Linked DNA regions of Homo sapiens: all the other regions are linked to region 3. Evidence: fine-mapped expression QTL. A gene starts in region 3. Each other region holds a variant in brackets. All regions are shown on one strand. Distances are from middle to middle.

Region 1 (5,000 bases), 57 kb after region 3:
TGAAGGTGAGTGACGAGACCCTGCAGCAAGAGGAAAGGAGCAGCAGTGCTAGATGTTGCAGAGAACCCAGAATGGTAAGGCCTGAAAACCATGTGTTTTAGATTCTGTAACCTGGAGGCCACTAGGTGACCTTAGCAAGGGCAGTCATGATGGAGTGTTGGGGCTGAAGCCCATTGCAGGGAGGCCCATAGTCAATGGGAGGTGGGCAGTAGACACAGAGAGCTGGGTTATTCTTGCCACACAGCTGTGCTGGGGCCATGGCGGGGGTGGGGGTGCCACAGAGTGGGAGCCAGAGAGGGACCTGGGTAAGGGCTGACCGTGGGTGGGGAGCGCATGGAGTGCTTTCAGAGGCCAAGTGAGTGGAACTGTCTATGAAGCAGATGGATGGAACCCTGGCTGAATTATCTCAGACTTGCCAAAGACATTCATAAAATTCAGACCCGCACACACTCGGGAATGGGAAAAATGAATTATTTTGTAAGAAGCTTATAGTCCAAAGGTAGAATTGCCCAAGAGAGCTTCTGAAAGGAAAAAGTCATAGCAAGTTGATATTTTTAAAGTGAAATAACATAGGTTGGATTTTTCTAGTAACTTCAAGGGGTAAAGACTTTGAATTTTTTTTTTGGAGACAGAGTCTCGCTTTGTCACCCAAGCTGGAGTGCAGTGGTGCGATCACAGCTCACTGCAGCCTTGACCTCCCAGGCTCAAGCAATCCTCCTGCCTCAGCCCCTCAGGTAGCTGGGATTATAGGCACACGCTACCACGCCTGGCTATTTTTTGTATATTTTGTGGAGGTGGGGTTTCACCGTGTTGCCCAGGCTGGTCTCAAACTCCTGAGCTCAAGCGATCTGCCCACCTTGGCCTCCCAAAGTGCTGGGATTAAAGGCGTGAGCCACTGTCCCTGGCCAAGACTCTGGGTTTAGTAAGCCTCTTGCAACTCACTAGGAGTGGATTTCTAGGACCTCCCCACTTTCTTGCTTGTTGTTTCTTTTGCTAGCCGTAAGTCCCTGGAGTACACTGGGTACTTTATGGGAAAAAGAGGAACAGTGTGGGACAGACTTTGCCCTGGGCTGCTTAACGTGATGTGGGGAACAGAGGTGATAAGAGCCTGTGGCAGCTCAGGCAGCCCTGCCATGACCTGGAGTTGGGGAGGGGTATCAAGGATAACAAGTCTTATACACATGCCATGCTGTTTCTTTGGATCAATAGATGGATAATTTTTAAAACCCCCTGTATGTATCAAACTCACTTTGGAGATGTAAGGCATGGCCTCTGTCCTGGTGACAGTATCTGAGTGGGAGGCCTGGTAAAATGTCTGTGTTTAGGATGATGAACGCCATAATCTAAGACTGCTAAGTGCTGTGGGGTGGTCTAGAAGGGCAGATGGGCTAGCTGCGAGGAGGGCAGAGGCACTGTGCAATGGTGTTGCCTGGGAACACTCCGTGGAGAGTGTGGGAATCTCACCCTGGCCCTACCAGGTAAGAAATTGGGCCTGGGAAATTGGGAAGGGAATTTTTCAAGCTTCATGGCTGCTCCAGGACTTGAACTAAGACTTTCCTTTAGAGCAAGCTTGTCCACCCTCTGGCCCGTGGGCCGCATGTAGCCCAGGAGAGCTTTGAATGCAGCCCAACACAAATTCATAAACTTTCTGAAAACATTGTAAGATTTTTTTTTTGCGATTATTTTTTAGCTCATCAGCTATCGTTAGTTAGCGTATTTTATGTGTGGCCCAAGATGACGACTCTTCCATCGTGGCCCAGGGAAGCCAAAACACCGGACACCCCTGCTTAGAGAAAGTGCGTTTTCTGTTATAAAAGGACCTTGAATCCCCATCTCATATGTTGGGACTTTGTCTTGCATGTTTTCAGGCAGGGCATGATTGTATCTGTAACATAATAATATGTAAGAATGTGTACTTCTTAGCCTTTGCAGAGAGGCGGGAGGCCTGTTTCCTGCAGCCCCCGCCCTGTCCTGGCTGAGGGGTGGGAGGCAGCTTGCTGGCCAGCCCCGCTGAGTCACCCTCCGGCGTGGAGCCCAGTGGGGATTTCCACGCGGCCCCAGTGTTCTCTTCTCCTCGTTTCCTGTTGGGCTGTGAC[G/A]CAGGCTGGCTGCCAGCGGGTGCCGGTGGGCACTCCTGACACAGGCCACTGCCAGCCGGCCTTGTGGGTCCTGAGGGCATCGTGGGTGGCTCTCCCCCCACGAGTGACTGTGCCTGGCAGGGTGTGCCCCACATGTCAGTTGCACTCCGTTCTGGGTGGGCAGCTCCCAGAGGCCCCGGGGAGGGCTGCAGATGGGCGGGGGGTGGCTGCCTGGGAGGACGGGAGGTTTTGTTGAAGAGAGAGCTTGCTCTTGGGGCAGTTTGTACTGGGCGTTTAGGGTTATAAAAACCTAGATTTGCTGAAAACGGCTCTCTTTTATCTTCTGACAAGAACATTTGTGAAGAAAACAAAACAGACCTTCAGCCATTTAGTCTATACACCGAGAGAATGGTTTCTACAGTATGCCTGATTTCTCTGGGTCTTTCTAACACATCCATGTATGTGCTTGTCAGCTTCTAGTGCCTCCATTTCTTGATATGAGGAAATTTTGCTTAAAAAAAAATCTCTACTGATAGGACCTCTGCATATTCATGCATGTTTTTCCTCCAGAACTTTGTGTCCCACCACTGTGCTAGGCAGTTTACAAATGCCATCTGATTTCATTCCTGCCACTACAGTCTAAGGCTATATTGTCCGATACCTATCCACCACCCTCATGTGGCTATTTAAATGTTGGGTCATTAAAATTAAATACAATTACAAATGCTGTCCCTCAGTCACACCAGCCGCATTTCAAGTGCACGGGTAGGCTAGTGGCCATCAGATCAGCTCATATAGAGCAGCACGTTTTCATCACCACCAAAAATTCTATTGGGTAGCACTGGTCTAAGGTCCGGACATATGTCCCCATTTTGTAGATGAGGAAGCTGAGTCCTACAGAGGTTAAGTTGACCACTTAGAAGAATGAACAGATGAAACCTTTTCATTTTACACATGAGGAAACTGAAGGTTATACTCCCCTTTCCTTCTTAGAAAAGAGAAATTGATCTGTAGGCTTCAGGGACTCTTCAGTTAGCCTGGGGGTACTGTGCGGGTCAGCTCTTTTGCTGTTCCCCCCAGACCCTGTCAGCTGTGGGTGGTGGCTGGTTTCTCTTGGTTTCCTCACCAGAGTTTGGGAATGAGCAAGTCAGGACTGCTTTCCGTACGGTAATCCTTTGGCCCATTTCCTATCGGGGGATTTATGGAGCTGGTGATCTCTTGGGTTTTTTGGCCATTTGTTAGAGCCAAAAGAGGTCACAGGAAATGATATACTAGTTTCATTGCCCAAAATACTGAGGTCCAGAGAGGTGAGGGGATGCTGAGGGTCTTGCATCTAGCTAAGAGCTGAGCTGGCTCTTAAACTTGTTTTCAAGCCAGGACTTACCTGACTTTCTTAGGAAAGTAATCACTCCATAGACAAGGATAGGTTTTTTTCACAGAGCAATGATGTTCCCTGTGGTCCCTATGTAGGGTGGTAAGGAATAGGGCTTTGGGATCCTACAGACCAGGGTTCAAATCCTGGCCCCACCACTTGTAAGTTATGGGACTTCAGACAAGGACTTAAACATTCTAAGTCCTCAGTTTCTTCATCTGTAAAACAGGGATAAAATATCTCAGTGAATTTGTTTTAAATACTTGCGTCCGGGCATGGTGGCTCATGCCTGTAATCCCAGTACTTTGGGAGGCTGAGGTGGGAGGATCGCTTGAGGCCAGAAGTTTGAGACCAGACTGGCCAGCATAACAAGAACATAACAAGATCTCATCTCTACAAAAAATTAAAAATATTAGCTGGGCATGGTGGTGTGAGCCTGTGGTCTCAGCTACTCGGGAGGCTGCAGTGTAAGGTTGCTTGAGCCAGGAGTTAAAGTCTGCAGTGAACTCGCCACTGTACTCTAGCCTGGGCAACAGAGTGAGACCCTGTCTCAAAAAAAAAAAAAAAAAAAAAAATCAGCCAGGCGCAGTGGCTCACACCTGTAATCCCAGCACTTTGGGAGGCCGAGGCGGGTGGATCACCTGAGGTCAGGAGTTTGAGACCAGCCTAGCTAAAACATGGTGAAATTCCGTTTCTACTGAAAATACAAAAAATTAGTCAGGTGTGGTGGCACACGCCCGTAATCCCAGCTACTCGGGAGGCTAAGGCAGGAGAATCGCTTGAACCCAGGAGGAGGAGTTTGCAGTGAGCCAAGATTGTGCCATCGCACTCCAGCTTGGGCAACAAGAGCAAAACTCCGTCTCAAAAAAAAGGAAAAAAGAATTCTAACATGTTTGAGATTGACTGCAATTCCTAGCATATTACAAGTGTTAGTAAATAGTAGCCATTAATATTATGAGCTTATCATCACCTTCAGCCAGCATTCTAATTTTACAGTATAGAATCCAGTACATAGGAGGCACTCAGATAGACGGGATGCCCCAAAATTGGGAGACGGACAAACTTATTTTGAAATAGTCTTTTTTTGACATTTCCAAAGAATATACTCAATGTTTTTCTGCAACCCTTTGCCTTCTTTTTAGGTGAAGGACCTCTACATTTAAAGCAGTGGGTTCAACTGCTAACCTGAAAAGCTATAATAAAACATCCCAGAGTATCCAAAAAGCCTGGAAACAAAGGGAAAATAGTGTGTCCTGCTTTCCAACTTTCGGATATGCTGTAGAATAGACTGAAACAAATCACTGGAAAATAGGTTGTTGTCGATTTTATTTAGAAGCTTTTGTTCCTTTGGATTTTCGTCTCTTATTTTTAGACAGAGTCTCCCTCTGTCACCCAGGCTGGAGTGCCGTGGTGCAATGATAGCTTACTGCAGCCTCAAACTCCTGGGCTCAAATGATCCTCTAGCCTTGACCTCCTGATTAGCTGGGACTACAGAAGCAGGCCACCACGTCTGGCTAATTTTTGTATTTTTCTGTTGAGAAGAGGTCTTGCTA
Region 2 (5,169 bases), 44 kb after region 3:
AGTGGAGTCCAGTCTCCTTAGCTGAGTTCACAGGGCCCCGTCTGCACGACTTGGCTTCTGTCGGCTTCCCTAGCCCTGACTTCCCAAGCCTTAGTCATCACCCTCTCTCCCACCCAGGGCTCAGCACAGTACCTGGAACAGTCAAGCCCTCAATAAATGTTTACTGAGTGCATTAAAAAAAAAAAAAAGATTTTAATGAGTCATGCTTTAACTGAAGATTTTAGTGTAGTCAGTCATTGGGCCTTGGATGCCAAAGGAATGACAAATGGTGGGAATTTCAGGCACAGTGACTGTGATAGCCCCAAGGAAACCAAGAGAGAAGTAGCTTTATCTGGGTGGAGGGGAGTGGGCCTTTCAGAGCCTCGAAATCTTCCCACCTGCTGCGCCACTCCCACCACATAAGCACCCCACCCTTCTTCCCAGGGTGAGATTTCTCAGCTCTGCTTTCTGGGGTGCCAGACAAGGGGAGAGCCTTGTTGCCATGCCCTCCTGCCCTCCTGCCCTCCTGATGCAGTCTGTGGTCACCTGCAGGCAGAGACAGATGAAGTCCGTCATTCGGCTGCGAGTAATTTCTGATGGGAGAGGGGCTTCCCCCGGCCCTTCCCGCCTCTCTGAGCCTTGCCACGGTCACTTGGTTTGCCCAGCCTAAGTCACTGCCTGTCGCTGTGGTTATTGCATGGACAGGGCCTCCCTCTGTCCCTCCACTTCCCTTCCCTGCCCCATACTGTTGCCCTCACCCACCCCAAAGCCTCACCCTTCCCTTCCATAGGGATATGGCCTGATAGAGGAGGAGCCATTTGATTTTGACTATTGTTGAAATTGAGTGGGGAATTTTGGGTTTGTTTTAGGTTTTGGAAGGGAGGATTATCTGAGGCTTGAGGCTTCTGTGATACTGACATCTGGTGTGGAAAGTCATCCTCCCTCACCTAGGTGACTGGGCCTCCAGGTCATCTCCCCGAGCAGCCTCCCTGGATCTGCTCTCCTCTCCCCCCCACCCCCCCACCACCTCCCGCGCTGTGCCCAGGGTGATCTTTCTAAAGGACAGATCTTGCTTCAGCACCTCCCTGGTTAGAACCCTTCCGTCCAGTGGTTCCTAGTGCTTCGGGGATAACTCGCCTTGTCCCTTGGGGTCTGCACAGCGTCCTCCATCTCCTCTCACTTGGCCTTGCCCTCGGGGGCTCCGGTAAGAAGCTTTCCAACCTGGCAGCTGCAGACTCTGTGCGGTTGTATTATTGCTGTAAATGGGCAGGGATTACGCATTTGTGGAGTGACTGATTTCAAGTACAACTGCCACCATGGGAGAGGTCTGTGAAAATCACTGGAATTGAAAATGACCATGCTTTGCCCAAAAAGGTTGAGAATCCCCACTCTGATGATACTAGAAGCCTGCTTGCCTCCCCACCCTGTGCCAAGCCATTTCTTGCCTCCTTGCTTTGCCCATACCAGCCTGGAATGTCCCAAGCCTATTCAACTTACTTCCTCCAAAACGTAGTCCCATCTTGATCTCCAGGAAGCAGCCTTCAGATGCCCCCTCCTCCTGGCCACTGCAAATGTGTCCCCCCAGCTGCTGAGCATGCCTAGGTCTGACACACACCACGATATGTTGAAATCATTGGTTTCTGGGTTATTCTTCTCACAGTCCCAGGCAGTGAGCCCTCAAGGACAGGGGCTCCATGGGACTGGTCTCTGGGTCGGAGGCCAGGACCCAGGTCACTAAGGGCATGTCACTCATCTGGACCACAGCTCCCTGCCTTGTGGTGTGGACTCTGTTCTCTGCACTGGGCTCGTTCTAAAACGGAGCATTTGGTCCTTGCAGCCTGCCTTGTGGTTTATGACTTAGTAGATTGAAAATGACAGTTGTGCTCTATTTTCATTTGGAAAGAAAAAAAAAAGTGGAAAACCAGAGATTGCACTGATCTGGAGGTAGAGAGAAAACTGTGGAGATCAAAGAAGATATTATGTATTATGAATGTTACACAGATCAAGGCATGTTTGAAATAGGCTTAATTTTCCTCAAGTTGGCTTTTGTCTCACAATTGAGTTCTTGTTGACGAAGACCAGTTATTATTCGTCTTCGTGTCTCTGGAGTCTAGCACCTAGCACGGTGCCTGATAAAGCATGGTCACTTCACAAATACTTGTCGAAGAATGCATGGGATGAATATGCATTTGGGTATTTTTAATGCTTGATGATTAGAACATTCTCATGGCTTGTTAACTTGTAAGACATAATTTTCATTGTAAGTTCTTTGTGTGTGCAAATGCTTTTTGTGTGGAATGCTTGCCATGCACTGAAAAATGCTTTGTGATAGCAGTTTTGAAAAATTGAGTCATTTTGCCCTGATTGAAGCTGGGTGACCTTGTGCAAGTCACTTTAACCCTCTGGGACTTGTGGCCCTCATCTGTAAAATGGGTAGAAGGTCAGAGTGGACCTCGTGGCCTGAGAGGCTAGTACCCCATGCTGCATGTAAGTCTTACATCCTCCTCTTTGGTGATTGGATACTGACCCTCTCCCCAGGGGTTCCTGCACAGAGCTGGAATTCTCTCTGGTGTCTTTGCATTCTAGTGGGTGGAATGCCTTGTTTCTCAGTAGCAATGAGAAATGTTAATGTGAGGTTATGAAAGCAAGCCAAGAGCCATGGAATAATTAAAACACACAC[G/A]CACACAAAGAAGGAAAAGCGAGAGGGGGAAACACACTTAATGGACAAGGGATGAGTAAAACCCAATGGACTGAGAAAACCCCAGAGCTGAACTTCACATGACCCCGCGTGCTGCCTGCAGTTGCGACACCCGCGTGCCCCTTACGCTCCGCCGGCCTCTCAGTGATGTCAGTGGGCCATGGGCCCCACAGGAAGCAGGGGCTGCCATCAGCCTGGTGGAGCGTGCCAGCCCGCTCCTCCTCCACGGCCCACTTCCCACCCACCCGGGTCTCCAGATAACATGAAGCCATAGCTCCCAGGCTCGTCAGCGGGGGAAACCAACTCAGTGCTTCTCAGAAAATAGAACCCCAGCCCATTAGTGATGTCCACGCAGGCAAGAGATGACCAAGAAGAATGTTTGCCTTTTAGGAGTTCTCTGCCTGAAACCAGCAGGTTTCCTTTAGGGATAGGGTGACTGTGCTTGCTGAACACCTCTAGGTCGTCAGTGAATGAAATAATTCATTCTGTGCTTGAGTGTCTAAGACCCAGGGGGTTTAGGAATAATTAGGATACTGGCTGTACCCTTGGAGTTCTGTGCTGCTTGGGGGATACGACTCAAACTCACAGACATCTGTGGCTCAAATCAAGGCATATAGATGCAGTGACTCTTGGAACATTCGAGGGAGAATCACCACCTCTGCTGGTGGAGGAAAGGCCAGGAACTGCCCACCTAGTTTTCCCATGACCCCAGCCTGTAGCGGGATATGTCAGAAGATTTGGATTTAGAGGAACTTGGGTTTGACAAAATAGAAGTGTATGTATATAAACAGAGTTGGGAGTGATGGGGGATAGGATGCTGACAGCACCTTGGTAGTCCCTCCCCCTACGTGACAGTATTGACTTCATAGTGTTGTTGTGAGGCTTGAAGAAGATACAAGAGGGAAGAGGAGCGTTCCTTGCCGTGCAGATGCAAATGCTCATTGTTACTTGTTCTGCCTCTCTGTGTCTGTGACATCCAGCCCTGTGTGGGCTACCCTGGTTGCAAAGTGGGCCTCCTGCCGTTGAGCAGCTATGGTCCAGTGGGCAGGTACACCACAGTCATGGAAGCCTAGTTAAATCATTACATAATAGTTAGCTCTGTATGACCAATCTTTTCTTTAAAGAAATTCTTCCTTTTGGAATAATCGTAGATACACAGAAAAACTGTACACAGATAATACAGAAAGTTCCAGTGTACCCCTGACCCAGATGTCCGTAATGTTAACATCTTGTATTACCATGGTACACATGTCAAAACTCAGAAACAACATTGGTACATTACTAGTAACACAAGTCCAGACTTTATTCAGTAAACCTTTTGAAAAATAATAGCTTTATTGGCATATAATTCATACACCATAAATCTGCTCTTTTAAGGGATATGATTTAGTGGTTTTTAGTGTATTAATGGAGTTGTACAACCATCATCACTATCTAATTTTAGAACATTTTCAACACCACAAAAAGAAACCTCATACCCATTAACAGTCACTTCCTGCCCATCCCCCTTAGCCCTGGCAACTTAGTCTACTTTCTGGTTCTCTGGATTTGCCTCTTTTGGACATTTCATGTAGATGAAATCATACAATTTGTGGACTTTTGTGTTTGACTTCTTTCACTTAACATATTTTCAGGGTTCATCCATTTGTAGCATGTGTCAGTACTTCATTCCTTTTTATGGCCAAATAGTATTCCAGTGTATGGATATACCACATTTTGTTTGTCCTTTCTTCAGTTGATAGACATTTGGGTTGTTTTCACTTCTTGGCTATTGTAAATAATGCTGCTACGAATATTTGTGTACAAGCTTTTTTTGTGGAAATGTGTTTTCATTTATCTTGAGTAGATACCTAGAAGTAGAATTATGGGGTCATTTGGTAGCTTTGTTTACCTTTTTGAGAAACTGCCAAATTGTTTTCCAAAGTGGTTGTGTGGTTGTACCATTTTACAGTCTCACCACCAATGTATGAGGGTTCCAGTTCTCCCCATCCTTGTCAACACTTGTTATTGTCTGTTTTATTTTAGCCATTCTAGTGGATGTGAGGTGGTATCTCATTATAGTTTTGATTTGCATTTCCCTATTGGCTAATGATATTGATCATCTCTCCTTGTGCTTTTTGGCATTTGTGTTTTTTGTTTGTTTGTTTTTGAGATTGAGTCTTGCTGGGATGTCCAGGCTGGAGTGCAATGGTGCCATCTCGGCTCACTGCAGCCTCTGCTTCCTGGGTTCAAGTGATTCTCCTGCCTCAGCCTCCTGAGTCACTGGGATTACGGGTGTGTGCCACCACACCTGGCTAATTTTTGTATTTTTAGTAGAGACAGGGTTTCACCATGATGGCCAGGTTGGTCTTGAACTCCTGACCTCAGATGATCCACCTGCCTCAGCCTCCCAAAGTGTTGGGATTACGGGCATAGCCACCGCACCTGGCCTTCCATTTGTATATCTTGTTTGGAGGAACATCTACAAATCCTTTAGCCATTTCTTTTTTTTT
Region 3 (5,000 bases):
GCTGTCTCCACTTCCATCCCACCTCTCCTGAACTTTGCACTTACCATGGTGAAAAATTAACTGGGCTAATGTTTCCCTCCCAAGGACAACCTCTGCAAAAGCAGGTATGGCTGGGCCCCAAAAGACCAGGTGCCAGAACAGAGTTGTACCCATCCAGAGCAGCCCACCCATTCACTGCCCAAAGTCAAGATCAAGAGAACATGCAGGGTCTTCTCAGCACTGGAAGAATCAGTTCCTCAGCCCTCCTCAGAGCTTTCTGAAACTGGACTTAGTCCCCCAGTGGAGGGACTTCTCTTGGAGAAACAGGCCTGAGGAGAAAGAACTAGCCCAGAAATGGCACTTATTAGACTTGTAGGTGGGTCCAGCACTATTTTTCTGCATGCACAGCTGTTCTTGTCACACGGATGCCAGCAGGGAAGCATGGTTCTGCCACACTAACTAGCTGGCTGCCTAGTTATTTCCTCCCCTCAGGAAAATGAGAGGGCTGAATGAGGGCCCCTTCCCATACCATGATTTTACAGGGTGAAGTACCTGTCAGGTCCTTCTACTACATGTAATCCTCAAATCTCTCTGACGCTCTTCCTCTACAGTGCAAATCACTCTCCTTCAGCAGACATTGCTCTCTCTGTAACATAAAGGACTTGAACTACAGGAGGACAGTTACAATGCTCTTTCTGGATCCACCACTCTGCACAGTGAGAACCGCTTGCTCCATTCTTACAGCGGAGAGAACGGACGCTGCCCAAGGGGAAGAAGAGAAAGAGCCGGGATTGGAAGCCAGGCCAGTCACTGATGGATCCTGAGCCCCTCTTACTTTCTTTGGCTACCTCTCAATGGTTGGACTTGTTCAGGTTAAGATTAACACTTTACTGGACGATGATGACTGCAAGGCCCCTGCCCATCTTTGCCCACTCAGTCACATCATCCTCATCCCCACCCTTTGATGCTTCTCTAGGCTGTGAACGCCTTGAAAACCTTAGTCTTTTATTTTGGAAGTTCAGGAACTGAATAGGAGGGCTGCAACTCAGAGCTGCTCCGTCAATGTGTGTTAAACTTATTTGACCTCCCTCCACCACTTTTCATGGCATTAGCAATGCAAACCTTTTCACATGAGCTTCCCACAGCCACCCTAGGAGATCGCGAGGGAAGCTACCTCTAGCCCCATTTTACAGGTGAGCAAATAATCCTTGCAGTGTTACAACAGTGTGCCCGTGTAGAGAACTGTTTTGCAAAGAGCTCGATCAATGATGTCATCTTTGCCTTCCGTGACCCAGGCAGCTGGGTGCAGTCTCAAGATCGGAGACTGAGGCTTCAACAAAGTATTGGGTTCAAATTCCAGCTCTGCCACTTGGAACCCTGAGTAAGTAATGTAATCTCTCTGTGCCTCCGTAAACGTGAGGCACAGGAACATCTACCTCACCAACCACTGTTAAGACTGAATCAAAGGGCAGCAGGCGGACTACCCGGAATGAAGAAAGCAATCAATAAATGTGGATTGTGTCATCCTTGTCTCTCTTGACGGACGGGAAGAGGAGAGTGAAACCTAAGACCACAGCGGCAGCGCGTTAACAGGAGGACCAGCAAGGAACGGAAGCCAGGTTGTCAAGCCTCAGTTGGCTTTCACGTATTCTCCTTTTCAGGCGGGTATTTAGGAAGAGAGGAGGGTGAGGAGCACAGCGCACTTCTGCAGCAGCAGCTGCGGATTGGCTTGTGGGAGGCGGTTCTCCGGAGCAAGGCAAGGGCCCCTGCCGCTTCTGGGCTGACTGTGGATTCCGCCACACCTCACAGGGCTTTGTAACTCCCCACCCACTTGAGGGTTCCAGATAACTTTTTTTTTTTAACAAAGCAGGGGTGGGGGTGGGAGATTCCTGCTGTTAAAAACAAACAAAGGGCTTAGACACCGGCTAGTCGGCTGCGGGAGGCAGCAAGAGAAAGGCCGAGGGGCCTGGAGTAGCTCCTGAAAACCGCCGAGGGCCCTGCGGGCAGACGCCCCTGAATTCTTTTGGTGGGGAGAAAAGCCGCGGAGCTCCCCAATGTGCCAATTGGTTTGTTGTTGTTTTGCTTTTTTTGAATACACAAACTCTCCGAAAACTCCTGTCTTGCCCCACTTTTTTGTGAGTTCATTGCTTTGGAAACAAAACTCTCTTCCATTTATTGGCAATTATCAAATTTCCGATCCTTCTCTATCAGGAGATCCAGCAACAAACACCCTGTTATGTAAATTTCTTTCAAAGATAAATTCGAAAGCCCCTCCATTCATTCCTTCAAGAACTCAACAGATGTCCTTGAGGCTCATTTTCTGCCGGGCACTCGGTTCACAAGGCTCAAGAGACCCCTGGCTCCAGCCATTGTCCAGGTTGTCACTGGTGTCCCCAGCTCTCCACTTCTGAGGACCCACTTCTCACCCCCTCCTCCTCCGCACACGTTCCCGAGGCTCTCGGCCGGTGTGATCTCACCGACTAGAGAATAAAAACAGCCCAGGGGCGCCGGCGCCGGCCAAGGGCCTTGACGGGGATCAGCAAGCGCGAGGCCAAGTGCGGGCCCCAACTTCCTGGGCCCGGGCCTTCCGCGCGCCCCCTCTCGGGCTCGGGTCCTCTCCAGGGTGCACTCGCGTCCGGACGACGCTTACTTGCTGCGAGTCCAACCCTCTCCGGCCCGCAACTCCAACCGAGCCGCCCGAGTGTGGACTCCGAGAGCGGACGCCACGGGCCGCGCTCAGCCCTCCCGCCCGAGGCCCCTCTCGCCGTGTTTCCCAGGACTTCCTCCCCGCGCCCGCCCGACTTCAGGTCGGGGCCGCGCAGGGTCCCGCGCGCTCCAGCCAGGACTGCCGCCGCCCGGGTCGCCCACGTGGGCGTGCTGGGCGCGGGGTGGTGGCCGGCCGGGCGCCCTCCCCGGAGCAGGGGGCGGGCAGGGCGCCCGCGGGAGGAGGTGGCGGGGCGCGGGGGAGGAGGCGGGGAGCCCCGGCGGCGAGGGGGCGGTGACAGCACTTGGAAAGGAGGCTGCACGCGGATTTGCATGAAACACAGACTGGGAGCGGGCGGGAGCGGGAGCGCGGCGCACGCCCCGGGCCGGCCCAGCCAGCGAGCGAGCGAGCGGCGAGCCGGGAGGAGGAGGGTGGCGGGGCGGTGAGGCCGCAGAGGCGGAGGGATCTGCGCATCAAAGCTAGCGAGGCGAGCGAAGTTTGGCCGGGGGTTGGACTTTCCTTCCCGGAGGCGGCACCCAAACAGCTACCCCGTGCGGAAACCCAAACTTCTGCTGCCACTTGGAGTCTCGCGGCCGCCGCCTCCGCCCCGCGTTCGGGGCCTTCCCGACCCTGCACTGCTGCCGTCCGCCCGCCCGGCCGCTCTTCTCTTCGCCGTGGGAGCCGCTCCGGGCGCAGGGCCGCGCGCCGAGCCCCGCAGGCTGCAGCGCCGCGGCCCGGCCCGGCGCCCCGGCAACTTCGCCGAGAGTTGAGGCGAAGTTTGGGCGACCGCGGCAGGCCCCGGCCGAGCTCCCCTCTGCGCCCCCGGCGTCCCGTCGAGCCCAGCCCCGCCGGGGGCGCTCCTCGCCGCCCGCGCGCCCTCCCCAGCCATGTCGTCCATCCTGCCTTTCACTCCCCCGATCGTGAAGCGCCTGCTGGGCTGGAAGAAGGGCGAGCAGAACGGGCAGGAGGAGAAATGGTGCGAGAAGGCGGTCAAGAGCCTGGTCAAGAAACTCAAGAAGACGGGGCAGCTGGACGAGCTGGAGAAGGCCATCACCACGCAGAACGTCAACACCAAGTGCATCACCATCCCCAGGTGGGGGCCCGCCCGGGGGGGACCCGGGGTCACGCCGGCCCAGCCCCCTGGCACTGCGGGGCCGACCCAGTGGGGCTGGAGATGGGAAGAGGGAGAGAGAGGGAGGGAGTGAGACTGTGTGGGTGCGTGTGTGTGAGAGTGGGAGAGCGCGGGCAGGAAGGGGGTGGGGGGACCCCAAACAAAACCATCTCTGATTTGCAAAGATCAGAGCCCGAGGCTTCCACGCGGCACTCTGGCTTCCACACCTCACATTCCCTTTCCACCTCCGGGAGGGGAGAGCGGGTTGCTGCGGGACTCGGCCGCCCCCACTCCGGGGAGCTGGGGCTGGAAGTTGAGGCCCGCTTTGTTCGGCTCCGCGGGCCGGAGCCCCTCCTCCGCCGCCGCCTCCCGCCCCCGCGGCCCGCGCTCGTGGAGGTGGTGGTGTCTTTGCGTTTCTTTTCTTCAGTCGGGTCTCCCCACTTTCCTCTACAGGAATGCGGTCCGTACAGCTGGGGCTGTGGGTGAGGAGCGGGAGCCTAGTGATTGACAGATTCCTTCTTCGTTCTTTCTTTGCCTTCGGGATTAGCATTTTTATCGAGTATTTTTAGACTCGGTTGTGCCAGTCTCCCGCCCCCTGAGCATGCACGCACTTTGGTTGCAGTGCAATGCTCTGACTTCCAAATGGGAGAGACAAGTGGCGGAAAATAGGGTCTTCTCCCACCTCCCACCCCCCCATCCCGACTCTTTTGCCCTTCTTTTGGTCCAAGAGATTTTGAAACCGTGCAGAACGAGGGAGAGGGGCAGGCTGCAGCCGGGCAGATAACAAAACACACCCCAAAGTGGGCCTCGCATCGGCCCTCGCATTCCTGTAGAGCCTTCCTTCCCAAAGCGCGCTGCCATCTGTCTGGATCTCCTTTATCCTTCCCGTTGCGCGCTAGCTAGGTCGGGCGGGAGCCCACAGATGGCTGATAGAAGGGGTCAGTGACTTCACTCCCCCAGGGCCTTCCTTAGCTTAGATGTGCCTGGCTGGGAACTGGGGGTGCGGGTACCTTGGCTTCCTGTCTCTACCTCTCAGCCTCCTTTGATGCTGAACCAAGGGAGAGAGCGTGTGTGTTGGGGGCTGGCTCTTTTGGGGGTCCCAGGCTGCCGAGGAATGAGTAGAAAGCACCAGGGACTGTCAGCCGCAAAGGGATTGTCATCCCTGCTCCTGGGCCAGGGTGGACTCCATCCTTGGCCACCTGCTTG
Region 4 (5,069 bases), 110 kb after region 3:
CAGTGCGTCCCAAACCCTAGGATGGAGGCAAGCACACAGGGAGCTCTTCCTAGGAAAAAATGGGGACATCTCAGGACATCTGATTATTTCCTTTAAAGAGATTATTATGAAATTACTGTACAAAAAGAAAGAAAGCAGAGGACATCTGGTTTCTCCTTTCATTTCCTCCCCACTCCAGGTGTTAGCCCCAGGGCTCAGGTCTGGGGAAGGTTGAGCCTCCTTGCCCCAGCAAAGCCACTTCTGGTAAGGGGCAGGGACTCCTGGTTGAGACCTGGCTCAGCATCCTGCCCCAGGCAGGCTCTCGGAGACCCTGGGACCTGGGACCGTTGTTTGCAGGGCAGGAGATATGAGCAGGTGATGTTCCTGTTATTACACAGCGTGCTGGGTGAGTCACCGGGAATTTCCTAGGCATTTAAGGCGGAAGGATTGGGGTAAATGGAGGGGAAGGAGGAGGCAGGTGGAGAGAGGAAAAAGGTAGTGAGCTGGCTTCTGCCTGGTGAGTAAGTTGTTCCCTGCTTTAAAGTGAGATGATTAGGGCGGAGCCATGACTGAGGAAAATAATGTACCAGGGAGAGCCCTGAGGGAGCAGTTGAGCTGGAGTTAAAGGAGGTGATGGCTTCCAGAGTGCCAGTGGCAGGAGTGAGAGGCAGGGATGGGGCAGCTTGGAGTGAGAGGGATAGGGCAGCTTGGAGGTGGCTGATGCCGGATGCAGTGCTTCAGACTGAAAGGTGGTCGTTTGCTGTGAATTGCCCTCTAGATTGTGTAGACTAGGATGATGGGATGTTTCTTGAGCTTGGACCCAAGGCAGCATCTCCTGTTGACATAGTTCTCCCTCCCTACTGACGCTTCCTCAGGCACCTTGCCTGAGAGTTGAGAATTCTTAGGTTATTTCTTCCAAAGGGAGGACCCTCCCCCCAGGGTGCCACTTTGCACTGGCCTAGTTGCACCTCTGCTGGGAAGGTGTGAATCGGGGGCAAGTTGCCCCGTGAGTCAGGGTTAGGATTCTGGGTGAGACTCCACGCTGACAGGCCCGGCTTCCCCTCTGCTTCATGAGCCCCTGTGCCCATGTGTGAGCACAGGTGTGGTGGCAGGGCGGCCCGAAGACCACCAGCCCTGAGTGTGGACGGCGGCCCAGGGCAGAGGCCCAACCCAGTTCCAGGCATCTTCATGCTGCTGCCCAAGGCTCTTTTACAATGCAGCCTCTGGCTCCGGTCTTCCCCACACTTGTGAAATCACAGGCAGGGTCTTCCCCACACTTGTGAAATCACAGGCAGGCAACATAATGACAGGAAGTCAGCTGTCGGCTCTGTCTTCATACTCCTGAGGGCCCGGTTTTTAGACTTTGCCACTGTTCCTGGTTGCAGTATGCTGGTCATAAGCTAAAAGGGCATGGGGGTCTCTGTGCAGCTTGGTTTGGTATTTTAGTCCGCAGATACATAGGTTGGAATTAGTACCCTGGGTGCTGGGACACAGCTGGCGTGGGCTCACAGAGACCTCATCCTCTAGCATAGGAGACTCAGGTACACAGTTTCTGGGACACAAGGTTAATTCTGCACTGAGGCAGTGAGGGAGTGTTTCACAGCCGTGTGAGCTGGGCCTTAAAGATCGAGTCCCTGCAGAGGAGGGGGATGGGCAGTCCAGGCAGAGGACCCAGGCAGGACTGAGAAGTGGTGGATGAGGAACATGGGAACTGGAGTGTGGAATCTCCTAGATTGAGGAAGAGCTGCCTTCCGCAGGTGAGGTGGGCCCAGCAGAAACCAGCCCATTTCTGTTTTGACCTTTCGTCTTGCAGCAGCAGTGCTCCTGGCCTTTGCCCGTTCCTTGCTTTCGATTTATAGGAGAAAGTTAATTTCCCCCCTTGCCTCCCCACCTCTTCCTTTACGGGATTTGAATCTCTTGCACATGTTTTTAATAGGCATCCCTTAATCCAAGTGTTGCCTTCTGGGTTTTATTCTGTTTTCTTTTTCTTAAACATAATGGAACGTCTGTGCCAGCTTGGAACAGGACTGAAAACTGAGGCCAGCCAATGCGTTAGGCTGGCAGGGGGCCAGCCATGGATTAAGTGCCCTATGGCACTTGAGAAGTCTGGCCGACACCACACTGGTGGGGGAGGGGGATCCACAAAGGCTGGAGCTGGAGGTTCCTGCGTCTCCAACACCTCTGCACTGGGAGGAGAGATTAGCACAGACTCAGAAATCTGGCCAGGAGCAGGGCTGTTTGAAGGGAAGGCCGTGGGCACGTGCCATCGTCTACCACCCCAGCTGTGCAAAATGCTCAGCCTAGAGGTGAAACTGCTCTTCAATGGGGTGTGTCACCTTACCCCCCGTAGTCATTCTCCTAGAGGAGCCTTCTATAGAACTGCTTCTGCATTTGTTGGTAAATCCTTGAAACCAGATCTTAATTTGCTTGCTTGCTTGATCAGTTGATTGATTGGTCAGGGGAGGGGTTGCCACCTCCCCCTGAGAGATTTCTTTTAAGATTTAATGCCAGGACAAACTTTGTTTTCCCTGAGGAACTAGTAAGCATTGCCCATCCACCAACCAGAGCCATAGACCATGTCATGTTCCCTTTTTGTCTTGTCTACTAGGAAGCTCAGAGCCAAACTGGATGCTTTTGCAGTAACTATAACCTCATGGTTATCCCATTTATAGCCGCCTTCTTTCCAGAGTCCTTTTTGTTTCTCTGGTACTAACCAGGGTAAGGATAAGTACTTTGGGAAAGAAATGAGGGCATATTTAGTGTTTTGGGTTTTTTTTTTTTTGGTGTGTGGCAGAGTCTTGCTCTATCCCCCAGGCTGGAGTGCAGTGGCGTGATCTTGGCTCACTGCAACCTCTGCCTCCTGGGTTCAAGTGATTCTCCTGCCTCAGCCTCCAGAGTAGCTGGGATTACAGGCACCCGTCACCACACCCAGCTAATTTTTGTATTTTTAGTAGAGACGGGGTTTCGCCAGGTTGGCCAGGCTGGTCTCGAAATCCTGACCTCAAGTGATCTGCCTGCCTTGGCCTCCCAAAGTGCTTGGGATTACAGGTATGAACCACTGCATATGGTCTGTTTTTTTGTTTTTTTTTTTGTTAAGGAAAAATGTGCCATTGAAGGCAGAACCCACAGGTGGTGACCATAC[T/C]TTCTGGTCTGCCACTCCTCTTGCACAAGTTCTGGGAGGAAGCAGCTGAGGCATGGTGGGCGGGAGGGACCTAGAAAGGAGGGAAATCACGGCTGGCTTTTAGTTGTTTGCAGAGAATAGAAAGCGCATGGCTGGGGTGCTGCTCTGGCTCAGTCCCGCTTCTGAACACAGGGCAGCTTGTCCAAACAGCACTCTCTGAAATGGCAGCCTGCAGACTTTGCCACTGGCCTGATTTCACTGCTCCCTCAAACAAGCATCTTCTTAATGATGTGTCAGGTTCCTAGTGTCCGGGGTTTTCCACAACACTGTCCGGTGTGTGTCTGTGAGTTGCAGGGCTGTTTGGATAAGGGCTCAGATCTGCTTGGGAGGGCCTCTCGGCCTATGACCCCAGGCCTGTCTTTGATTCTGAGGGTCCTTGAAGCCCACCCTTCCCCAGAGCATGGTTCTAGCACCATGCGACACAATGGGTGGCCTGCCAGCTTTTTCTTTTTTTGAATGGTGGGCTGGGTTGCCGTTCCTGGGAGCCTAGCTCTTTCTCTTCTGCCTGGACTAAACCCAGAGAATGCTGGGCAGGGCTTTATGATTTTGGGGTGAGGACCCTGTTCTGTTCTACACATTGCTGAGTAAGTCAGGGCCAGTCAAAGCTATATGTTCAAGCTGACCCGTGCCAGAGAATGATCTAGGTGGTCAGCTTTATTGTAGCTTTATTGTCTTCTAGTGTACCACAGTGATTGTACGGACTACAAAACTGAGGTTACAGAAGGAGGTCATGTCCCCAAGGTCACACAGCAGGATCAGCAGAGCCTGCGCTTGGGCAGTGGTGGCCAGCAGCACTGATACATTGCTTGACCACTCTGAATGCTTGGGTTGCACTTGGATTTTTTTTTTTTAAGTTTCCAAATCAACATAGCTCACATTTTAGTGACCACATTGTTTAGAATATAGCTTATCTCATTGGAATGTTGAAGCATCAAGCAAAGCCAGAGCCAGACGTGGCTGACGTGGCTCAGCCTCACCTCAGGGGCCAGGGCACAAGCCGCAGCTGCTCCTGGCCCTGTCATTCCTCCCTTCCCCATTAAGTACTTTTGATGCCTTCATCCTTATCTTCCTTTGCTCCACCCCAGGAAGAGAGAAAACGACAAGAATGCTTTGCCTCTCCATCTTGATGGTGATCAAGATAGGACCAGGCTATTTTCAAGTTCACAGAATCGGGCTATTATCATTGTTGTTAACACCATGTGCTGAGTGTTTGATGCGCGCCCTGCACCTCACATGAGTTATCTCTGTCTGTCCAGAAACAGCGCCGAGAGTAAAGAGGATGAGGCCCACAGAGTGTAGCTGGTTTGCTCGCAGTTGCATGTCTAGTCTGTGCCTGAGCCAAGATTGACCTCCAGTCTGTCTGGAGGATGGCTTTATAGCTTGTGCCCCATGATCCAGTTAAATATCTAGGGCAATGGTTTTCAACTGGAGGCCGTTTTGCCCCCTAGAAGACATCTGGCAATATCCGCAGCCTTTTTTTATTGCCACAACTTGAGAGGGTGTTATGGATGTATACTACTAGCACCTAGTGGGTAGGGGCCAGGATGCTGCTAAACATCCTGCAATCTGCAGATCCTCCCTCCCACCCATCCACCCACCCAACAAAGAATTATCTGGCCCCAGATGTCAGTAGTGCTGAAGTTGAAAAACCTGACCTAGGGTGTCCTAATCCTCCAGCTGACACTTCCTGGGTGTGTGTGGAGTGCAGGGGTGTTACTGGCCTGCCCCTTCGCCATTCGTGATAGTGTTCTCCTTGCTCTTAGAAAGGATCATGCACCTAGACTCCAAAAGGGGATTGGGACACTCTGTCCTGCAGGGGCAACCAGACCCCTTCCAGTGGGCAGAACAGCTTCTGACTTTTCTCTCTTGGGCTTTACACACCTTCAGAAGGTCTGATGAGCAGGGATCC
Region 5 (5,176 bases), 33 kb after region 3:
GGCTCAATATCGGCTCTCTGTAACCTCTGCCTGCGGGTTCAAGTGATTCTCCTGCTTCAGCCTCCCGAGTAGCTGGGATTACAGGCACCTGCCACCACACCCAGCTAATTTTTGTATTTCTTTTAGTAGACGTGGGGTTTCACCATGTTGGCGAGGCTGGTCTCGAACTCCTGACCTCAGGTGATCCAGCCTTGGGCTCCCAAAGTGCTGGGATTACAGGTGTAAACCACTGCATCCGGCCCATCTTGAAATTCTTAATAATTTTCTCTTTGACCTAGTGTTTTGGAGCATGAGCATGGATAGAGGAGATGTGGGCAGCATGTGCCCATTGAGCCTTCTGCCCCATTCACATGTAGCATTTGAGCACAGACTTCTGCCGGACCTACAATGTGGGGGAGTTGAGTGAGAGTCAAAGTGAGTGTGAGATGTCACATCTGCGACTGAGTAGCAGGGGCCCTGACAGTCCTGATGCTTTCCATCTAACTGGAACTTGTCTTGGTTGTAGAAAGAAGGCGATGACATTCTAAGAAACATCAACGACCAAAGAACCCCATCATATCCTTTATTACTCACGTCACTTCCCTGACACCAACCACTTATATTGAAAATGATGACGGAAGAAGGGAAAGGAAAGATAGGGCACCCATATTGCCTTTTCCTTTCAGATCTTCCTTACTCCTCAGGCAGCATAAAGAGTGAGGTAGAATGGACACATAGCGAGAAGTGAAGTAAAAACGATTGAGTTAGCTTTATGGATGTTTCTCTGGTTCTGGTACATCACAAAATGCACATCCAAGTCCTAAAATACAATTCATGTAATGTTGGTGATTCCACATACTAGTTAAAGGCTTTTTATATTTGCAGTTAAAACTGGCATCACACAATATAAATAGGAGTGGTAAAATTCATGCTAATTCATGTAATTTAAAATTTTAATGTTGCTTTACTTAGAATAATATTAAATAGCAAATTAAAAATACCATGACACATCAAGAGAGAGACTGTGGAGGAAAGAGAAAAAGCTTTCTATTTTAGTACCATGATTGATACTTTTTTTTTTTTTGCCTTTTGCACAAAGGGTTCCATATTTTCATTTTGCACTGGGCCCCACAAATTATGCAGCCAACCCTGACTGGCATCCTGGGGCTGGAGGTCTCAGGCTGGTCTTGCACGTGCAGCCTCTAGATCCCTGGTCTGCTCACATTGTCTCCTGGGTTGCGGAGCTAAGAAGCATCATATAGGCAAGTGAGCATGTGTGCTTGCTCTGAAGATTCCAAGCTTCCAGGTGGTGGTGGCTCTGTTGATAGAGATAAAAAGTTGAGGAATTTCAGAGGCTACAAACATACTCTTGTTGAAGGTGCTTTGGGGGTCTCCTGAGCATTTACTTTTGTGAATTTTTGGGCAGCCTAGTATAGAGGTGATCCAGCAGTAAGCTGAGAGAGAGGCCCTAGTTTGACTCTTAACTCAGGCATGGTCTCCTTGGGTGAGTCATTTCTTCATCAGGCAGTCCTCAGTCTTTTGGTTGCAGTGTAGTTGTTAAAAATGTGGGTACTTGGAGGCTGAATTCTTGGGTCAAATCTTATCTCCATCTCTCTGTCCTTTTTTTGTGGTTTTTTTTGTTTGTTTGTTTTTTGTTTTTGTAGGGGACAGGTTCTTCCTCCACCACTCAGGCTGGAAGGCAGTGGTATGATATTGGCACACTGCAGCCTTGACCTCCCAGCTCAAGCGATCTTCCCACCTCAGCCTCCTGAGTAGCTTGGGACTACAGGCACACATCTCTATGCTGGGCTAATTTTCATGTTTTTTTTGTTGTTGTTTTTTGTTGTTGTTTTTTGTAGAAACAGAGTTTCACTATGTTGCCCCAGGCTAGTCTCAAACTTGTGAGCTCAGGCTATCTGCCTGCCTCAGCCTCCCAAAGTGCCGGGATTACAGGTGTGAGCCACTGCGCCCGGCCTTATCTCCATCTCTTAACTAGTTGTTTGATGTTGGGCAGGTTGTTCAAGCCTCCTGGAGCCTTGGTTTACCCATCTATAAAATGGGTATAATGGTAATTATCTTATAGCATGGTCATGAGCGTGAAATGAGAGCAGGGGGAGGAGTAATCATTGTGTCTGGTCCATGGGACTGAATCAATGCTAGCAATGGTCATGATGGTGAAGAATGAGGGGAGGAGGAAGAAACAATTCCTGTGGGTGCTAGGACCAAAAGTAGTATCCTCTAGGAATCCTGGCCTTCAAGGTCTAACTTCCAAGATTCTGTGAGTACGATTCTAGGGAGCCTCTGCCTCAGACTTCTAAGTAGTTCTTCAGGCTGTGCTCTAGAAGTTACTGGAATGAAAGAAAAATTGTAGTGTTTGAAGGTCTTCAAGGATCCTGGTCCTCTCACACTGTCACTCTTAGTCACATGACCTTTGACTGTCCATTCCCTACTAAGCCTTGGTTTACGCATCTGTCAAATGGAGCATTCGTGGGTGTGCCTGCCTTAGAGGATGAGACCCAGCTGAGATGACATATGGAGAAATCGTTTATAAACTTAAGTACTGGTGTTAGGAAGAGCTAACACGGTGAGTCTTCAGTGTTTCTTTAAGTGCTGCTCACTACTGTCCTGAGAGACTCCAAGAAGCAGTTACTTTGTTTGGGCCTCAGTTCATCATCTGTGAGATGAGAGGATTGGGCTTTGTGCCTAAACTGCCCCCCCACCCCACCACCCAAGACAGATTAAAAAAGAAGGAAGGAGGGAGGGAGGGAGGGAGGGAGGGAGAGAGCGAGCGAGCAAGCAAGCAAGCAAGCCAGCAGGATTTGGAATCGTCCCCTAATTGGAACCACAATCGCAGGTTTCAGGGACTCAGGAAAGGGTGCAGCCCAGCTTGTGGTTGAGAAATGAATGTCAGATGTTAGGAAGAAAAAGGCCTATCTCAACATAGCAGGGGTTTCTTACTGCCCCTGCCTCCTCAGCCCCGGTAGCCTGTCACTCCCTGGCGAACAGCTTGGCAGCACAGAGGCAAACCACAGAGTACATTTGAGGCCCAGATCTGCTTATTT[C/T]GAGGGTGGGGCCGCGTTTTTCTCCTGCCACAGTGAGCTAATTAAAGAAAACAAGCTTCGGGAGTTGGGAGAGAACTGTCCACAGGACACTTGGGGAGGCTTGCTTTGGTTGTGGAGGCCTCCACAGCCCCCGGAAGGCAGGTGGAAGTGGGCATGGAGGGTCCTACGCATCCCCAGCGGGGGTCTGAGGGCCCACTGTTGCTCAGCTGGGGGATTTGGGGACGGTGGGAGGGCATACATGGATGGGAGGGTGGACTCCGTTCCTGAGGGGGCCAGTGTGGAGGAGGGTCAGGCAGCCCATGGAGATGGGACAGTGTTCTGAAATGCTTCACAAATGTGGACTTTTGCCCCAAACTGTGGACAGAGCGTATGTCCTGAGCGAGGATCAACTCTGTGAGTACCCATGATAATTCTCCTTTCTGTGGTTGCCGCCCTGTTGATTCATGTGTCAGCCTTAGAGAAAGTGGCTGTGACTTCTGCATTCCTGGGAATACACTGACATGAGAAGAAGTAGCCGCTCTTGTTCACAGTCACAGGGCTGGAAAGTGGGATAAGGACTAAGGACTTCTGTCTCTGGATTCAGCATGCTGATTATGGGGAAAAGCAGACATCAATTCCTCATGTCTTGTAAGCATCACTGTCCTCCAAAGTTGGAGCCCAGCTCAGACAGCTGCATAGTATTTTATAGAGAAGGTGTGTTGTTGAAATGTTGATTATGCAAATTGAATTGTGTTTTAAGACTACTGGGAAAACCATTTAAAGGAATCCTGTTGTAAGTCATTTTGAAAAATGGAGAATTACACCACCTCCCCAAGGATTTTCTGTTTTGGTAAATTTCATGTGGCAAGATTACTTGAAGAAGGGTTCCAGTGTTTTGCTAGCTTATAATGGTTACTGCATAAGGAAGGTTTACTCGCCAGAGGTCCGCATACATTGGAGAACTGGGGGAATATGTAATACTTGTGCAGAAATGTTTTGATTCATGTACTCAGAAGATGGGATCTGGATGACACCTCCAGCCTATTGATTCCCAAGTAAGGTGTGATGACACCACCACCAGCGAGGTGTGCTATGAGGAATTTTTGTTGATGATGAAAAGTGAATGCTAACTGATTGCACACCACGTGCCCCATACCTTACATAGATTATCTTATTTAATTGTTGCTAATAATAGTACTACAGTCTGTGAATGATTTACTTAGCAATTAATTCAAAAGCATATTCCACTCTACAATGGAATATTTTTTGAGCCAAGAAATGAAGTACGTGGCCGGGCGCAGTGGCTTGCGCCTGTAATCCCAGCACTTTGGGAGACCAAGGTGGGTGGGTCATTTGAGGTCAGGAGTTCAAGACCATCCTGACCAACATGGTGAAACCCCATCTCTACTAAAAATACAAAATTAGCCGGGCATGGTGCCACATGCCTGTAATCCCAGCTACTTGGGAGGCTGAGGCAGGAGAATTGCTTGAACCCAGGAGGCAGAGGTTGCAGTGAGCCGAGATCGCACCCTTGCACTCCAGCCTGGGCAACAAGAGCGAAACTCCATCTAAAAAAAAAAAAAAAAAAAAGGAATGAAGTATGTGCCACAACATGGGTGAATCTTGAAAACATTGTGCTGAGTTGAAGAATTCAGACATCAAAAGCCACATATCACATGATTCCATTCCCATGCAGTATCCCCATAGGCAAATTCACAGAGACAGAAAGCAGATTAGTAGTTGCCAGGGATGGAGGAGAGGGGAATGGGGAGTGACTGCTTCATGGATACAGGGTTTCCTTGAGGGATGTTCTGGAACAAAATAGTTGCGGTGGTTGTACAATATTGTGAATGAACTCAATGCCACCAAATTATACACATTAAAATGGCTAACATGGTAGATTTTTGCTGCATGTATTAATATATTAATGTATTAATAAATGTATTAATTACAATATTAATATATTGTGATATACTGTGATATATTGTGATAAATATATCAATATATTGTGATAAACATATAAATTGATTTTAATATATATTAAAATCAAATGTATTCCTCTAATGGTGTCCATGTCACTGACTTAGTTTCTGATAGGTTTGTATTGGGTAGGAAAGAAAGGAATGGGACATTTACGTGTACACTGAGGCAGAAGA

Direction of the effects. Positions count from the first base shown, and alleles are read on the strand shown. Sizes are in standard deviations (SD) of each study's normalised expression. Not every link is listed here.
In carriers of allele G in region 2, the expression in fibroblasts of the gene that starts at base 3,018 in region 3 tends to be higher than with A alone (small effect, 0.31 SD a copy in GTEx).

Evidence for each region.
Region 1: its variant is fine-mapped to the expression of SMAD3 in whole blood (TOPMed, PIP above 0.99).
Region 2: its variant is fine-mapped to the expression of SMAD3 in fibroblasts (GTEx, PIP above 0.99).
Region 4: its variant is fine-mapped to the expression of SMAD3 in neutrophils (BLUEPRINT, PIP 0.95).
Region 5: its variant is fine-mapped to the expression of SMAD3 in whole blood (TOPMed, PIP 0.97).

Annotation. Positions count from the first base shown.
Region 1 is chr15:67,119,190-67,124,189 of GRCh38, forward strand. The region is part of intron 1 of SMAD3 (SMAD family member 3); the gene reads left to right. Among named protein-coding and RNA genes, the nearest start is that of SMAD3-AS1, 25 kb to the right of the region's middle. RefSeq lists enhancers at 910-1,767, 1,746-2,185. The variant G/A (reference allele first, on the strand shown) is at 2,097.
Region 2 is chr15:67,106,980-67,112,148 of GRCh38, forward strand. All of the region lies in intron 1 of SMAD3 (SMAD family member 3), which reads left to right. Among named protein-coding and RNA genes, the nearest start is that of SMAD3-AS1, 37 kb to the right of the region's middle. RefSeq lists an enhancer at 1-1,009 and a silencer at 1-206. The variant G/A (reference allele first, on the strand shown) is at 2,660.
Region 3 is chr15:67,062,585-67,067,584 of GRCh38, forward strand. SMAD3 (SMAD family member 3) reads left to right here and starts at 3,018. Exons shown (of 9, transcript NM_005902.4): 1 at 3,018-3,776. The coding sequence starts at 3,571. SMAD3-DT (SMAD3 divergent transcript) reads right to left here and starts at 1,598. Exons shown (of 6, transcript NR_135686.1): 1 at 532-1,598. RefSeq lists enhancers at 1-108, 1,266-2,036, 3,576-4,344, a cis regulatory region at 29-42 and silencers at 2,795-3,284, 3,455-3,614, 3,765-3,814, 4,065-4,124, 4,145-4,234.
Region 4 is chr15:67,174,675-67,179,743 of GRCh38, forward strand. All of the region lies in intron 5 of SMAD3 (SMAD family member 3), which reads left to right. Among named protein-coding and RNA genes, the nearest start is that of SMAD3-AS1, 30 kb to the left of the region's middle. RefSeq lists an enhancer at 1,379-1,428. The variant T/C (reference allele first, on the strand shown) is at 3,122.
Region 5 is chr15:67,095,591-67,100,766 of GRCh38, forward strand. The region is part of intron 1 of SMAD3 (SMAD family member 3); the gene reads left to right. Among named protein-coding and RNA genes, the nearest start is that of SMAD3, 33 kb to the left of the region's middle. RefSeq lists enhancers at 1,380-1,429, 2,643-3,144. The variant C/T (reference allele first, on the strand shown) is at 3,042.